Linked DNA regions of Homo sapiens: region 2 is linked to region 1. The links come from fine-mapping of genetic effects on gene expression. Tissue or cell type: whole blood. Region 1 holds a variant in brackets; the other region holds the start of a gene. All regions are shown on one strand. Distances are from middle to middle.

What was found. PIP is the estimated chance that this variant, and not a neighbour inherited with it, causes the effect.
Region 2: TICAM2 starts here. The variant in region 1 is fine-mapped to the expression of TICAM2 in whole blood (TOPMed, PIP above 0.99).

Annotation. Positions count from the first base shown.
Region 1 is chr5:115,578,837-115,583,098 of GRCh38, reverse strand. TMED7-TICAM2 (TMED7-TICAM2 readthrough) reads left to right here. Exons shown (of 4, transcript NM_001164469.4): 4 at 1,784-4,262. The coding sequence ends at 1,784. It overlaps TICAM2 (TIR domain containing adaptor molecule 2), which reads left to right. Exons shown (of 2, transcript NM_021649.7): 2 at 1,784-4,262. The coding sequence starts at 1,843. The coding sequence ends at 2,550. Among named protein-coding and RNA genes, the nearest start is that of TICAM2-AS1, 21 kb to the left of the region's middle. The variant A/G (reference allele first, on the strand shown) is at 1,755.
Region 2 is chr5:115,600,446-115,604,577 of GRCh38, reverse strand. It overlaps TICAM2 (TIR domain containing adaptor molecule 2), which reads left to right and starts at 2,099. Exons shown (of 2, transcript NM_021649.7): 1 at 2,099-2,481. All of the region lies in intron 3 of TMED7-TICAM2 (TMED7-TICAM2 readthrough), which reads left to right. It overlaps TICAM2-AS1 (TICAM2 antisense RNA 1), which reads right to left and starts at 2,423. Exons shown (of 3, transcript NR_109875.1): 1 at 2,118-2,423; 2 at 1,422-1,532. RefSeq lists a silencer at 2,108-2,607 and enhancers at 2,227-2,749, 2,698-2,777.

The sequences.
Region 1 (4,262 bases):
CCAAATTAATTTGGTTTTATTATTTTGGATGGATATATGTCACATTTTAGAGTTATTATGCCTTAGAATACCTCTTGGTAACTAGCACAATATACCGTGGAGCGAGAACCTAAAGTACAGACAGAGTGAATGACGGAGTGGTCAGCAGTTTCCTCACTAGTCAGAGGCAGCTGCAAACATTTTTACTCACATACATTGAATGAAATTCTCTGTTTTTTTCCTTGGTTTTTGTTCCCATGACAGTTTTCACCACTTTTGTTGAACAGTTTCTTCTAAACCTGAATTATGTAGGCATATGTAGCCATGTTACTTATGTTGTTATGAATGTTATAATTTCTTCTTGAGGTATGGCCTTTGCCCATAAAGAACAAGTAGAAATGCTCTGGAATATAGTCTGTGGCTCACATTTGAAAGTATGAAACCTGTATTTATATATTCTAAATGTTCTGTCTTTTAATAAAAGAATTCCCCTTGAAACTGCCTGTCTGGGGGATTTTATTAGGAATATTGCCAATGTTTTCTGAAGACTTATTTAAATTAGATTCACATGGTATACTTTTCTTTCACAGTTGATCTAGTTCTTCCACTCTGAATTTAGAATTTTTTTAAATAAAAGAATGAGTCTAGGCCAGACGTGGTAGCTCATACCTGTAATCCCAGAGCTTTGAGAGGCTGAGGCGGGAGGATTGCTTGAGCCCAGGAGTTCGAGACCAGCCTGGGCAACATATGAAACCCCATCTCTACCAAAAAAAAAAAAAAACCAAAAAAAAAAAAAATTAGCCAGGTGTGTGGCATGTACCTGTAGTCCCAGCTACTCCAGAAGCTGAGGTGGGAGTATGGCTTGAGCCTGAGAGGCAGAGATTGCAGTGAGTTGAGATCACACCACTGCACTCCATCCTGGGCAACAGAGCCAGACCTTGTCTCAAAAAATAAATAAATAAATAAATGAATAAATAAATAACAACAAAAACAAGAATGAATCTAGACTATAATCATTCTTTGTTGATTTCACTGGAGAAAGTCTCAAGTCTTTGTTTCTAGAGTTCATTTCCAAACTGAGATGTTAATTTTTCCTTAGGTGAATAAATATATTTTCTTCAGTAGTTACAGGATTCGTTGGAAAAAGATATTTCTTACTTTTCACACACTCTTATTATAATTTATTCTCCATTAGATTCACCATCACCACAATGCCTGACTCCAGACAAACAAAAAAAAGCTCCGAACCAGTAAATCCTGGACATCATTTCACTTGACATTTCAGATCTTCTGTTTATGCTGTCAGTAGAGATGCTGCCAGTCATTGTTAGGATATTTGTGTTCTATTTTGTTTGTGCTTGATACAGAAATATATTTATGCTTAATTGAATATTCAGTTTCTTTATATTTTCCTGTTTCTAGTCTACATGGTAATTTGATAATGGAGAAATTAGATTTAAACTGCATGAAAAGATAAAGCGGTATGGTACCTATCACAAAAATACCAACGTAATTTATTTCAATCTGGAGGTTTGTAGTGCTAATATAACACCATTTACATTTTCCGAATGTCTCCTATTATATTAAACTGGACCCTTTATTTAATGTTCCCTTCGCTGCCTGTGATAGCCCTTGTAAAGCTCACAAAAGATTAGTAGTTTAGCTTCCCAATTATCTGTTTGTCGTTTATGTATTTGGATCTGTCTATTATAATCTTTTTGAGCTTTTCAGTTTGAATGAAAGTTTCCATTTTTAATGTTTTGATTAAATTTATA[A/G]TATTCTTCTGTTTTGTTACTTCTTTTAGATTGAAAAGAAATGCTGAGAAATACATAAAGTTTTCCTCTTCTGCCTTGGATATTTATAATGGGTATCGGGAAGTCTAAAATAAATTCCTGCCCTCTTTCTCTCTCTTGGGGTAAAAGGCACAGTGTGGATACAAGTCCAGGATATCATGAGTCAGATTCCAAGAAGTCTGAAGATCTATCCTTGTGTAATGTTGCTGAGCACAGCAATACAACAGAGGGGCCAACAGGAAAGCAGGAGGGAGCTCAGAGCGTGGAAGAGATGTTTGAAGAAGAAGCTGAAGAAGAGGTGTTCCTCAAATTTGTGATATTGCATGCAGAAGATGACACAGATGAAGCCCTCAGAGTCCAGAATCTGCTACAAGATGACTTTGGTATCAAACCCGGAATAATCTTTGCTGAGATGCCATGTGGCAGACAGCATTTACAGAATTTAGATGATGCTGTAAATGGGTCTGCATGGACAATCTTATTACTGACTGAAAACTTTTTAAGAGATACTTGGTGTAATTTCCAGTTCTATACGTCCCTAATGAACTCCGTTAACAGGCAGCATAAATACAACTCTGTTATACCCATGCGGCCCCTGAACAATCCCCTTCCCCGAGAAAGGACTCCCTTTGCCCTCCAAACCATCAATGCCTTAGAGGAAGAAAGTCGTGGATTTCCTACACAAGTAGAAAGAATTTTTCAGGAGTCTGTGTATAAGACACAACAAACTATATGGAAAGAGACAAGAAATATGGTACAAAGACAATTTATTGCCTGAGATGAAACATATAACATGTGGCTGGCTCTTGTTTTGTAAACCAAATGATTAATCTTCACTTGAGAAAGCAGTTTCTAGGAAATGTTTAAATAAAAGAGAGTCTTCACCTTAAAGAAACCTATGGAGCACAAGAAAGATAAATTTCTGCAGGACAGCCTATAAAATTGTGGTACTTTTTGATGTTTCAGTAAACTTGACATTGTCAGAGTTTCAAGGACTTTTCTTTCACAATTTTCCTAGTTCATGGATATGAAAAAGGAATTCTCAATCCATATTCCTTGTATTGAACCTTGAACAAAAACTTGTATGACAGACATTTTTAAAAATGTGACAACACTTTTATTCTCTGAATTTTGATCTCAAAGGACACAGAAAAAAAATGGCCCCAGGAGATCTGATCACACTTCCTCCTGAGGCACCTCTCATGGATGTTGCAATAAGCATTCGGGTACTATCACCCAGAAATATGAATTGCCAGAATAGAACATTTAGCATGTTAAGCGTTGATGCATATAAAATCAGAAATAGATGTGAGAATGGTGGAACTTTTTAAAAGAACCCAGTCAAATGTATTTTCTGCTGAAATCTGCATATTTGGAGGCATTTCCCACCACCGATTCACAGCCCATTTGATAGTGTGGTAGTTAGGGACTTCGTGGAGTGGTGTTCAGACGTCCCCTGGGGCTTAAATCTCTTCATATTAGTCATCATTTGTAACTATGGCTTTATTTGCAGAGCTTCTAAAAGGCGTATAACTGTGTGAGTGGCCAGATATTCACTTTTTAAATCAAAAACCTCTCTTATGGAAGCTTTAAAAGTTTCCGTCACACACAATTCTCTTCTCAGGAAGTATTTCTCATTTAGGTCTTCAAAGTAGCCTGACTGTGTGCATGTGTGTGTGTGATAGGTTATTTATAAAGACTTTGGATAGAAGGAGATGTATTTTATTACCTCCTATTCTAGAGCCCCATGCTCCTAACAAGCCAGAGAGGCCCCAAACAGGATTGTTTCTTTCCTCCACAGCCCTTCTGCCCATCTGAGATTGAGGGAGCATCGTCCACTTGAGATCAGGGATGGGGTGGAGAATGGGTCATGTCATGTAATGAGAAAAGCCCTCTTCGGGATCATGAGACTTGGTTCTAGTCCAATTTCTGCCACTGAGGATGAATGTAACTGTGGGCAAACTATTTACCCTCCTTTATCTGTGAAATGAAAGGGTTGAATTGATGGATCTCTAAAGGCTTTTGTCCTCTATGAGGATGTGAAAAACTAGGGACCACAAAAGGGAACAAGCAAAAAAGTTTGGATTCGATAAAGTGATATGTAATAGTTGCAGAAGGCTTTATATATGCTTATAATGAAAAGATATTTTTTGTATATTGACAGCATAATTTATTTTTAATGCTGTCATTACACTTAAAGTCACAGGAAAAAAATATACATGCTTACTCAGGCTTTCTTAAAAATAAATTTTTATAGAGATCCTTGAGTAAAGACATTTTGCTTAATTTCTTTTTTCTTATTCCCCACTTGTATATCCCCTACCAGTACCGGGATCTGCACACATCTTTTTGCAGTTACCTCTTCATAGCCATGAACCAAAACGTTCTATGAGGAGCATGCAAGTAAGTCAAGCCTCCTATTCTGTTAGTACTTATTAGAGGAGGAGATGGTTTTCATTGCATAGTGACATTTTCTTAGCCTTAACGTTC
Region 2 (4,132 bases), 22 kb before region 1:
CTCCACCTGATGCATCCTGTTAGGCACTTATGGGGGATATGAATATCTTCACATGCCCTCACCACTCCAAGAGGGTTATCTGTAAGTCTCACGGACAGATCTTTTACAAATTTTCCATTTTGTTCTTTCCAAGAACCTAAAAGCTGGACAATCCATTAGACACTGCCTGTAAGTCAGTATATTTATCAGTTTGTCATGTCGTCCCCTCCTTTCTTGAATGTGAATAACCAGGTATGTAGCTAGAAATTGCCCACTAGGAAGATTCGCTGTCCCCATTAGCAATGCACGGATCTGAAATTGTCTCACTTCTTTACATATCTGTCTGTCTCCCAGATTAGACTATAAAATCTCCATGAGAACTAGGACTGTGTCTCCTGTTCGCACAATATCCCTAATGTCTAGCACATAGAATATATTCTAAACATATGTGGCGTAAGTGATTGATGCATTTTCTTGAACATTTGGAGAGAAAATGTTAAGCAATTAAACTTGTAACCAATTTAAGATTTTTTTTAGTACATGTGACTGTATTATGAAGAACAATGCAAAATTTGGAGCAATTTACAAGAAGATGGAACAGTTCAAGTAAATTTGCCCATGACACTAGTGACTTCAGGCTCTTTTATGTATGCAACCTAAGTGATGAATAGGGAAGTACGTGTTTATGGAATCTGTCATTGGTGGTATTTCAGTGGGAAAATGTGAAAAGCTCTGATTTTGAAGGGTTGCCAGAGAAAGAGGAACAGGCAGAGGAAACTGAAAGAAGAATTTTTTTTTTTTTTTTTTTTTTTTGAGACGGAGTCTCACTCTGTGGCCCAGGCTGGAGTGCAGTGGCGCGATCTCGGCTCACTGCAAGCTCCGCCTCCCGGGTTCAAGCCATTCTCCTGCCTCACCCTCCCAAGTAGCTGGGACTACAGGCAGCTGCCACCACTCCCGGCTAATTTTTTGTATTTTTTAGTAGAGACGGGGTTTCACCGTGTTAGCCAGGATGGTCTCGATCTCCTGACCTCGTGATTCACCCGCCTCGGCCTCCCAACAGGCCTGAAAGAATTTTAACAAGCAGGATGAGCATAAAGGCAAAGTGGGGTTGTCAACATCAAGGAAACAGAGTGTTGGGAAACAATGGTCGACTTTGTCAATCGCCAAAGAGACTCCCAGGAAAAATGAGGGCAACAAAAGTATCAGTTGGATTTAGGAGGCCACTGCTTACCCAAAGAGTTCAGGTAGAATTGTTGGGAGGTGCAGTGGTTGGAGAATCAACTCCGTGAATAATGAATTGTGTTGACACGGTACATAATACGGTATTTCTGACTACATTGGCGGCATTTCACTAAGTAATTACTACCTGAAGTGCCTACCTTCAGTAAGGCATCCTGTTGTTGGATGGGGAAAGAGAAGGAGGAAATAACTCTTAGCTTTACCTGTACTGTGCTTCTGAGACCCAGGTATGGACCTTCACTCCCAATTTACTATCCATGGTCTCATCCGATGTTCAGTAACTGGGTTCTCCTTTGGCAGGGAGTAGGGATTGCCTGAGAATTAAAAGGGGAGGGGAGATTTCTGAACTGGACCTCTTAGGTTATGACTAGATTGGGTGCCTGAGGCAGCAATGGGGCTTTATAAGGCTTCTTTACGCTTCATTTAACTAATTGCTTTTTTGTTCTCTCTTATTCAGTGGAGTTCCAATCTGTTCGGTTGTGGAGAACGAACCTGAGAAAAAGGATCTTTCGCAGGGTAGTTTTTGGGGGCAGAGGCTGATGTGCTGCACCCCCTAATCAGGGGTATGGTTGGCTGCAGTAGTCAAGTGAGAGGGCCGCAAAGGGAAAGGAAAAGTCGAGACTATCTTAGGGAACCAGGAGAGTCGCTGTACCTCTGAAAGATCTACGGTTTGTCTGGTCTGTAAGGAGCAAACACGGTGGAATTCCTTTCCAGATTTTTCTGGGCCTCGACCTCTGGCTTTTGGGGTACATGCCAAAAAAAAAAAAAAAAAAAAAAGCGCAGGGAGAGTCCACTAGCCTCGGTGACAGTTCCCCATTGCGGTTTCCCCTCCTCCACCCTTCTTTGCGAGCTCCTTCCCTCTGCAGAGAGTTATCCCGCCACATTAACCCCTGACTCACAGCTGGACCGCCCCGGCCCGCAGCGCCACGTCCCGGGTGGGGCCTGCCACGGCAAAGCAGCAGTCCGGCCTCGAGCGGCCCCTCGGGGGCGGCGGGGTGGGCGCCAACAGCAGTCAGGCCTGACAAGCGGCGACCTCCAAGGGTGAGGCCTCTGCGGGCCCCCGACTCACGCGCGTCCGGGCTCTGCAAGCGCGGTGGGGAGCAGGCTGCTGTGGTCGCGGGGACTGGGTTGCGGCGCGCCGCGTACGGGACGGCCCCAAACTCTCGACGCCCGGGGCAAGACGCCCACCCCCTGGGCGCTCTCGCTGGGCCAGAAAGGAAGACAGAAAAGCCGCGGGCTGACTGTGGTGGCGCTCGCCTGCAGGCAAGTACCGGGCGCTAGGGCGGGGGCCGCCGCCGGGGGCGCGGGGTGGGCTGGGGCCAGGCCGCCAGGGGCGCGGGGTGGTCTGGGGGCCAGGCCGCCTGCGCTACCTCCCCAGCCTACCCGACCCGACGGCGCGGGTGCTGGCGCTGTTGTCCCCAGCGGGGCGGGCAGGCCTTTCCGTCACTTGGCTTACTCTGAAGGGAAAATCCACACAGCTGTCTGCCTTTTTGTTTCATTTTGACTAGAAAACCCATTTTCGAAAAGACACCTCAGAACCATAAGCAAATAGCCCAGAGTCTTAAATGCTCTAAAGGCTCTGCATGAGCCCCTGCCAGGCACACAGAGCCAGTGCTGGAGGTTTTGGCATGGGTTTTCCTACTTGGCTTTTTGTGCAAAGCTAATTTGGATAAAAATAATTTGACTGGCAGCTGTGAGCTAGTTTTCAGTGTATTAGGACCTCTCCAGCTTTCCACGGTAGTAAACTTCTTAAAGAAAGTATTTTAAAATATTCTCATATTTATTATTATTTTTTAATTTATCCTTTTAATTTTGAAAAGCAAGGGTGGGAAAGGCTATATGATCTGGAGGTAAAAATACACCATTATATAGAGTTGAAGTGTCATCCCCTGAACCCACATTGCACGTCTACACAGGAGAAGAACTTGTCCTTCTCCAAGTGTTTAGTATTCCTTAGATTAGTGTTTTTCAAACAAGCCTGATGGTAAGACGCATTTGGGACTTTTGTTTAAAATGCATCCCCCCACCTCTGAAGGTTTAATTTGGTAAGCTTGATTTCCAGAATCTGTATTTCTATTTTTTTATTGTTTAATTTAATTTTATGTTCTGGGATACATGTGCAGGACTTGCAGGTTTGTTACATAGATAAACGTGTGCCATGGTGGTTTGCTGCACCTATCAGCCCATCAATCCTTACATTTTAATATTTTGAAGTAGTAGGATGGTTATAAATGGAGTTAAGCAACTCCACTTTATATCTCATTCAAATCAGAAAATAGATAAGCAGGTATAGAATATTGACACCTACATTTGAAGCAAAGTAAATGTGACATGTACGCCTTACCGTATGGAACTTGAAGTATAAACCATGTTTACACTGTTGAATCATGGGCATCTGTGTTGAGTCATTTGTTCCTTATGCTATTCTTAAAATGTATTCATTTAACAAATATCTGCTGTTAAATCTTCTGTCTTTAATCCCCCCTAGACCACACATCCCATTCTAGGTCCCGCTCCCCTACTTTGCTTCTTTTTATAACAAACAAAAATCCTCTTTGAAAGATTTAATCTAAGTCTCCATTTTCATTTTCCCTGTTTCTTCCTACCCCCTCTCATCTGAGGCTTTTTGTCCCCATTACCCCCTGCATGGTCCTGATGTTGCCAATGACTGTCTTGTGAAATCCAGTGTCTGTGCACAGTTCTCATCTTTCCTGACCCCTCAGTAACATTTGATCACTCCCTCCTCAATATTCTTTTTTCTTCACTAATGTTCTTCACTAATATTCTTTCTTCTTCACTTGGCTTCCAGGTCACCATATTCTGCATTTCATTCTGCTTCATTGTGTCTCCAGGCTTCCCCACCACTAAATCTTAGTATGCCACAGAGTTCATTTCTTGGCCATATTTTTCTAGC